2 separate regions of the Homo sapiens genome follow, and region 2 is linked to region 1. The links come from fine-mapping of genetic effects on gene expression. Tissue or cell type: whole blood. Region 1 holds a variant in brackets; the other region holds the start of a gene. All regions are shown on one strand. Distances are from middle to middle.

Region 1 (4,245 bases):
GAAGATCCTTTAGCTATCTGAGGGAAGTAAATAGGAGTGGCAGACTCAAACTCAAAACTCAAGTTAGGAGTCTTGTTTAGTCCACGAAAGAGAAAACCACACACACACAGTTTAATTGACATGGTCTATTTACTCTTTGAATTGATAGGAATTCATAAAATATTGTCATCCAGGCCCTTTCAAGGTAGATCACTTGTTCTAAACGGAGTGCCAGACAAAGAACAATCTTGACTTCCTTTTATTTCTGCTTTGTCATAGCAAGAGGTGAACAAAGTATGTCTTGGTAGTTACTGGCTGACATAGTTTGAAAGCTAAAATCCCATGGTAGTGATTAAATTATTTTTTTTTTCACCTAATGGACAAAAATGGAATCAAATGTTTCATAAACACTGGTGATTCTTTTGTAGTGAGTGTTTTCTGGCCAACCAAAGTAATTTTTCAACAAATGTGAGTTTGGAAAGAAACTGGACTGGAAATGCAACTCTGATTCCTGGTTCAATTTTAAGTTTTGAGACCACCACACTGTGGCCCATCACCACCATCAACTATATCACAGTAGCATTCATCTTTTCTAAGGGAAAGCCATTTCGAAAACCCATCTATACAAACTGTAAGTATATAAAGTTTAATTTTTCTTTCTGAATATTTTCCCATTCCCTTTCTCACCCTAGAGTTGTACCTCACTGGTGAAATGATGGGCTGAGGAAGAAACAATTGCATGACTCTAAAATTGTTGTTGAATGCAGTGGTCATCGTTGGTAGAGCCCACATGCAGAAAATCTGCTTGTTTGCAGATAAGCACAGACATTATTTAACTGTCACATGAGTCTTGTCCTATTGTGAGTCATCAAGAATCATTTTAAACACATACATGCATGTGAAGATATTTTATTAAAGGCTTTCTAACCAATTCAAATGCAAATTAACCTCTTTAGCCTTATAACATTGGGCAAGTTACTTTAACCATTCTATGACCTTATTTCCTCATCGGTAGAATGGGAGGGAGTATCCTTAATTTGTTAAGTCCTGAGGGAAGGACTAAACAAAGCATTTTATGGAATGGGCCTAGCACAATTTATGTAAAGGGTCTGGCACTTATAATAGGGGCTCAAAAAATCTTACTTACTTTCCCTGTGTATTAATTTAAGTAGAGTTTTTTAAAAACTCTTCAAAGCTACAATTAAGGTCCTCCCAGCTAAGGCTGGGAGTGGTGGCTCACTCCTGTAATCCCAGCACTTTGGGAGGCTGAGGTGGAAGGATCACTTGAGTTCAGGAGTTTGAGACTAGCCTGGGCAACACAGTGAGACCTTGTCTCTAAAAAAACACTTTTACAAATTAGCTGGGCATGGTGGCTCTTGCCTATAGTCTCAGCTACTTGGGGAGGCTGAGGTGAGAGGATTGCTTGAGCCTGGGAGGTCGAGGCTGCAGTGAGCCAGGATCACACCACTACACTCCAGCCTGGGCAACAGAGCAAGGCTCTGTCTCAAAAAATAATAATAATAATAATAATAATAATCCGCAGGCCAAAGAAGCCAGAGAATATGCCCCATCATTACTGATCAGACTGGGACACTCTTTAGGAGTGAAGTGAGACACTATTAATAATTATGCCAGGCTTAAATAGAGAATGTCAAGGCAAACTAGATACATGATACCTATCCAGATATTGCATGATAAAGATGGTCACCCTATCAAGCAATTGGCTTCAGTATGATAAATAATGCTATAAAAGTATACTTGTGTAAATTACTTTGACTTAGCCTCTTATTTCCTTAGGATAAGAAAATTCAGTTAACTGGTAAAATAGTGTGAAAATGTCAAAGCCTGGAATACACAATTTAAAGTTGCTTTCTAGAAAGTTTGTACTGATTTTCACTTCTATCAGTTGTTTTGGAGAGGGTGTGCTTCTTAATATTATATCCAACAGGAAGTACTAGTTAAAAAACAAAATTTGTGCTGGTCTGATAAGATTTTAGAAAACAGTGTCTTATTTGGTTTTAGTTTGCATTTCTTTGATCACCAGTGAGGAGAAACGTATTTTCATGTCATTAGCAATTTCTTCTTCTGTGAATTGTGTGTTTACATTTTTAAAC[TTA/A]TTTTTTTTCTGTTGGATTGCTGTTTCTCATTTATTTGTATGAGCTGTTTATTTTTTGTGATCTTTTTTCCATTGTCTTTATGCACAGGAAGTTTTTTCTAATTATGAAATAGGATAGATTATCACAATTAGTTTTAAAGTGCTTTTAAAATCTAATGTTAATTTTGGTGTATAGTTTGAGGTAGGGATTAAAACAAGTTGCTCCAACTAGTCAACCGGTTTTTCTAGCAGCTTTTATTGACTATTGAGTTTTTAATATTCAATTATTTTTCCACTGAATATACCACCTTCATCCTATCTTCATATATGTGTTTGTCTGTACATCATTTATATTATGCATTGTTTGTATGTGTATGTCTATATAGTTTCCATACTATCTTTTTTGTTTTTAAATATCAGTCTATTCTTGATTTACCACTATACTTTAAAACTTATAGTTTTATAATAAGTTTTATTTAATAAGTGGCAAGATCAGTGTATCCTCATTATTCCTCATTTTAAAAAATGTATTTATTTCTTTCCTGTTCATTCTTTAAGATAAACTCTAGAATAAATTGCCAGGCTTTTAAAATTTCCCTTTGGGATTTTGATACTTTGGGAAGAATTTACATTGGTATATAACTTAATCTTCCCATTTAGGAACATGTCATGTCTCCCCATTTATTCTTGCTTTTTGTTAAGGTCTCTTAGCAAATATTCGTTGTTTTCTCCATTACAAATCCTGCCTGCACATTTATTTAAGAAACTAATTGGGCCAGACGCGGTGGCTCATGCCTGTAATCCCAGCACTTTGGGAGGCCAAGGCGGGCAGATCACCTGAGGTCAGGAGTTCAATACCAGCCTGGCCAACATGGTGAAACCCCATCTCTGCTAAATAATACAAAAATTAGCTGGGGGTGGTGGTGGGCACCTGTAATCTCAGCTACTTGGGAGGCTGAGGCAGGGAGAATTGCTTGAACCCAGGAGGCGGAGGTTGCAGTGAGCTGAGATCATGCCACTGGACTCCAGCCTTGGCAACAGAGCGAGACTCCGTCTCAAAAAAAAAAAGAAACTAATCCTTTGTATTTTATATTTTTGCTTATATTGTGAATGACTTTCCCATTATATTTATTAACGAATTATTACTAATACACAGGAAATGTATGTTGTTATACATGAATAATTTTTAAAATTATAAATGTATTTTACAAGCAGAATATATTTGTTGCCTAGTACTTTAATTATTATTATTATTGAGATGGAGTCTTGCTCTTTCACCCAGGCTGGAGTGCAGTGGCACCATCTTGGCTCACTGCAACCTTCACCTCCCGGGATCAAGCAATTCTCTGCCTCAGCCTCCCAAGTAGCTGGGATTACAGGTGCCCGCCACCACGCCTGGCTAATTTTTTTGTATTTTTAGTAGAGGCGGGGTTTCACCATCTTGGCCAGGCTGGTCTTGAACTCCTGACCTCGTGATCCACCCGCTTCGGCCTCCCAAAGTGCTGGGATTACAGGGGTGAACCACTGCACCTGGCCTAGTACTTTAATTTTAATAGTAGCTGCAAAGTCCTTTTACATGAATTGAGTGAATTAGAGGTAGTTACCTCACAGTGACTTAAAGCTTGTGGGTAAATTCAAACCCCTATACCAGACATAACTGATAATTTTAAATGTAAAATGTTTTACATTTTAGCATACAGGTATGCTAACAAATGTAATAAGATAACAAACATATACTCTCAGGTTATAAGTCAAAAGCCTCTAGAACTACTATTAAAATATACAAGCAACTTTATTTTGATGTAACAGAAAACTCTTTGCCCTTTTTAACAGCCTTTGACAGAAGCTCAACTTTATGAAAAAGTAGAGGCTTAACTTTTCTGGAAACAAATGTGAACATTACTAACCTTACCTGAAAATAAAGTGTAATGGCTTACACAGGATTTGCTTTCCTAAAGCACCTGCATTAACAGAGCCCTATTCTTTCATGTTTCCTCAGCAGCAGCAACTAACCAAGAAGAGCCAACATTCAAATCTTTATTACATCTTTTCAATCAAAGCTGAATTTTAAAAGATGACCTTATAATTTTGTTTCTACATTGCTCACTTGTGCACAGGCGAGACCTAGTTTTTAGACCATTAGACAGTGATGTGCACCCCACTCAGCCCCA
Region 2 (4,245 bases), 24 kb before region 1:
CTTGCCGTATTCCCTTCCTTAGGAGTAAGCCACTAGATCCAGCCCACGTCCAGGGGAGTGGATTACACAGGGCGTGGATGCCAGGAGCTGGGGATCGCTGAGGGCCATTTAGAAGTTACCTATTCCAGAGAGCATTTGTTCTGTGGGCCATAAGGCATATATCTTAGAGAACCCTCCCATGCTTGGATGTAGCAGAAATAGTGGGGCAGGTTGTATAGCTTAGAATCAGAAAAATGGGGAAGTAGGTGCGTTATACCCTGGAATTATTTTAGGTTGGTCCATTAGAAGATATGTGAATAATTTCTGGTCTTCTTAGCAAGAGGTGAAATAGCATTTTGCCTTTATCTGGCCCCAGCAGGGAAAGTCAAGAGAAAGTCCTTTATTACCCCCTTCAAAAATAAAGATGACCAAGTTACCTTATAGTGAAATGGTACTTCTTGAGACCAGATCTACCTACTGGTTTCTGGGAATGTAACAGTTTGGGGCTGCAGAGTCTAGGAAGTGAAAAGGAACATAGGGTAGTGAATCTTTAGATGATGGCTGGTGAGTTGTTGGTGAAATCAGGAGACACCCTTTTATTGTTAGATTTTGTTACCCAAGCATTCATAGGGAAGTCTTACAAACTGCCTATTAACTTCCAGAATGCCTGAGGCTGGGTAAGTAACCAGTGACTAAATGACTATTTCATTCACATGATCATTACATGATATTGCTGAAGAAAGTAATTTTACCTTTTTCAAATGCCTGAGAAATTTTGCCAACTAAAATGCCTAACTTTGAAAAGCCATATTCCCCTTAAAAAATGAATTCAGGAAGACACACACTGCCTCAGAATGAGCTGTCTTCTCAACATCCCAATCTTCCTCCTCATGCCTTTGTCATTGGCAATGTGCATAAGGCTGTCTGCATTCTCTTTCTGAATTCAGGGAATACTAGAAGATGATAAGATTCTTGATGTGATATAGAGACTAAATATGTGCTTTAAGCCTGAAAGAAGGAGCCATTTTTCAACAATTGTGGGTAGTCATGACATGAACATATATAGCATGATTATTTTCATCTACACAGCCCAGTATCGGATTGAACCATAGGGGTGTGCCTACATTTGACTTTTTTTTGTTTTTGAGACAGAGTCTCGCTTTGTTGCCCAGGCTGGAGTGCAGCGGTGCAATATCGGCTCACCGCAGCCTCCGCTTCCAAGGTTCAAGCAATCCCCCTGCCTCAGCCTCCCAAGTAGCTGAGATTACAGGAGCACACCACCATGCCCAGCTGATTTTTTCTATCTTTAGTAGAGATGGGGTTTCACTGTGTTGGCTAGGCTGGTCTCGAACTCCTGACCTCAAGATCCGCCTGCCTCAGCCTCCCAAAATGCTGGGATTACAGGTGTGAGCCACCGTGCCTGGCCACATTTAATTAACTGTTTTTGACCTATAAAAGTGGTTGTTTCTTATGCATTAACTAATAATAACGAAACGCTAACAAAACTTTATTTTTTCTCCTTATTGATTTCATAACTCTGTTTTTAGAAAAATGCAGCTAAGTCTTTAAGAATATTGTCATTTATCAATACTTATAATGTATAACTTATAATAGAAGGCAGGCAGTGTCTTACATCTGAAACTCCTTTTCTTTGGCAGCCGTATTAATTTTTACTCTTCTATTTGTATTGTGCTTGCACACCAAACTGATATAGATGGAAAACATATCTTATTTTCACCCTGACATGCATCAAAAATATGAATATATGTCTCTAGTTATATCTGTTAAACTGTTTTTGAAATTTCTCATCCTGGTATTTGAGCTGTAAATGCTCAGCAACAGTCAGTGACTAAAATGCAGCTGGATTGGGTTATGATCTCTGCATTAGGTTGTGTGGGAAGTGCTCTGCTCATGACTGCATACTCTTAAGCTTGGCCTTGGTGCGTATCATCAAGCAGGACTTCTTTTAAAGTGTGCAATCACTGTTTTGCCGATGTCCTTGGTTATATCACTACCATTTCAATGTGATTGATTGAAACAACTTAAATAACGCAACTGCCTTTTCCCTCTGGGAATATGTCTCTCCAAACCATTTTTCTTCAGCCTGATTCCAGGTGTGTTCAGGGGACACACACATACACACAAATCACATGTGACTTAGTTATGATGGAAAATATTCAAGTGAGCTGTTCATTTTTCTTACCTATTAATCCTTCTTCTCCTGTCTCCCGCAGTTATTATGTGGGCATGTGTGGAGATGGAGCTAACGACTGTGGGGTGAGTAGAAATGGCTTTTGCTCAGACAAGCCACTCACTAATATCCCTCTGGAGGACCTCAGGCTCTCCTGGGGTTTGTCTCTTCATCCTTCCACCAGCAACCATTTGATTATTTTGCTGTTTATATCCACCTCTACCTGAGTGTGGGTTGGAAGCGGAGGGGAGTAAAGGGAGATGAGACACTTCCGATGCTTTCTGGAAACTCCTAGAATAATAAACACAAAGGAAGGCTACTTAGACTCCCATATTTCAGGTTCCAAAGATGGAACTTTACAAGTCTATCTGCTTTAAATCTTTCCTGTTATCAGTAATGAAATGATTTCTCAAGGAGGTGATTTCTTCCCCCCTCCCAAGGTCACACAACTGATAAAGACTCAATGAAACGAAGTTTGAAACTGATGATTAAAGTTTTGAATTATATGTAAATTATATTTATTCCTGCCAAACTTTCATTCTCTGGTTAGTTTTTAAGTTTGCTTCACCCAGAACTCTTTCACTCAGTAAAATCCTAGACCAAACTATTTAGTTATTTTATGCTATAGAAAAAGCTAAATAAAATGATTATCAGCAAATTATTTTTCATATGCAGTAGAAGGGCAGTGAATGTTTTATATTCTGAGTTTTAAAGACATGAAGGAAACAAATAGTCTACCTTCAAGATTATGTACTTAAGGAAATATTTCAGTAGCTGATTTATGGGACAAGAAGTGAGGAAGATTTCTTTGTATTTCCAAAGCTTATTAGAGATTTAAGATCTTGGTATTTGTTTTATTTCTCTCTTAAATATTATTTCCAAATTTCTGTGAAAACTGTGTTTATAGCTAGAAATTTTTATAGCTAGAGATGTTTTTTGCTTTATGTTTCATGAGAAAAAGCTAATTTTTAGTCTGTTCTTTCAAATCTAGAATACGTATCCTCTCACATTAATTATGTGGCGTTTAGAATAAAACAAAAAAATCAAATGCAAAAAGGGACATAGTCTCTGCCTCCTAAAGAGTTCATTGTCTGATGAAGAAAGAATCATGAATAAAACTAACCCTAACATAAAGTAGATGGTCCTAAAGTACATAATAGAGATACGAACTAGAGATCAAAGAGGAAGAAGAAAATGTCCTATTATTTATTAAACCTGAATCTAGTATGTACTCATGGCGCCAGGTACTCTGTAGTTCTGTGGAACTACAGATATATAAAAGTTCATTTTATGCCCACACAATTCTTATAGGATCGGCCTAGGAATTCTTTCACCTTTGTTCATGAAGATTCCCACCAGGTACAAGAACTGAAACGGTGAAGGTCCCCAACCAACGTCCATCCAAATTCTGTCATCTTTTTAATTGAGTTTTTGAATGAGGGCTTCCATCTCCTTTTCACATCTATAATCCCCACAGGCAGGGCCCTTGTATGCACATGCCCACATGCACACACGCATGCATGTACACACACCACTTTTCTACCTCTGGGTCATTGTTTAGTTAGTGACTTTGTGGATCAGGGGAGAGAGGGCACTCCAGGTGGAGGGACAGCATTAAACAGAGACCCAAAGATGAAACAGTACAGTGTTATACCTTTATGATGTGAAGAACAGCCTCTTGGTGTTTTAAGAGGTAAAGCCTAACCTGAAAAGTCATGGGTGAGACATGGGCTTATCATTCCAGGCTTTGAAAGCGGCTCATGCAGGCATTTCATTATCAGAGCAGGAAGCATCTGTGGCATCCCCTTTTACCTCTAAAACAACCAACATCCAGTGTGTGCCTCATCTCATCAGGTAAGTCATTTTTTCCTCTTCCAGCCCTACAATCAATGGGCCCATTGTCTGGCTCTGCAGACAGAATTCAACTACAAGCTAAAGTGATAAATGCTGCAACAGAGGAATGGGTGAAGTGCTATTGGAGAACCAATGAAGGGGGCCATTAGTGTTACTCAAGAGTGCTGGTAAAAGCCACAGAAAAGTGACTTTTGCTGAGCCTTAAAGGATAGGTGGGTATC

What was found. PIP is the estimated chance that this variant, and not a neighbour inherited with it, causes the effect.
Region 2: ATP13A5-AS1 starts here. The variant in region 1 is fine-mapped to the expression of ATP13A5-AS1 in whole blood (INTERVAL, PIP above 0.99).

What each region holds. Positions count from the first base shown.
Region 1 is chr3:193,281,279-193,285,523 of GRCh38, reverse strand. ATP13A5 (ATPase 13A5) reads left to right here. Exons shown (of 30, transcript NM_198505.4): 27 at 408-610. It also overlaps a transcript of PLAAT1 not described here. Among named protein-coding and RNA genes, the nearest start is that of ATP13A5-AS1, 24 kb to the left of the region's middle. The variant TTA/A (reference allele first, on the strand shown) is at 2,094.
Region 2 is chr3:193,305,338-193,309,582 of GRCh38, reverse strand. It overlaps ATP13A5-AS1 (ATP13A5 antisense RNA 1), which reads right to left and starts at 2,339. Exons shown (of 2, transcript NR_046758.1): 1 at 2,183-2,339. ATP13A5 (ATPase 13A5) reads left to right here. Exons shown (of 30, transcript NM_198505.4): 22 at 2,214-2,256; 23 at 3,915-4,024.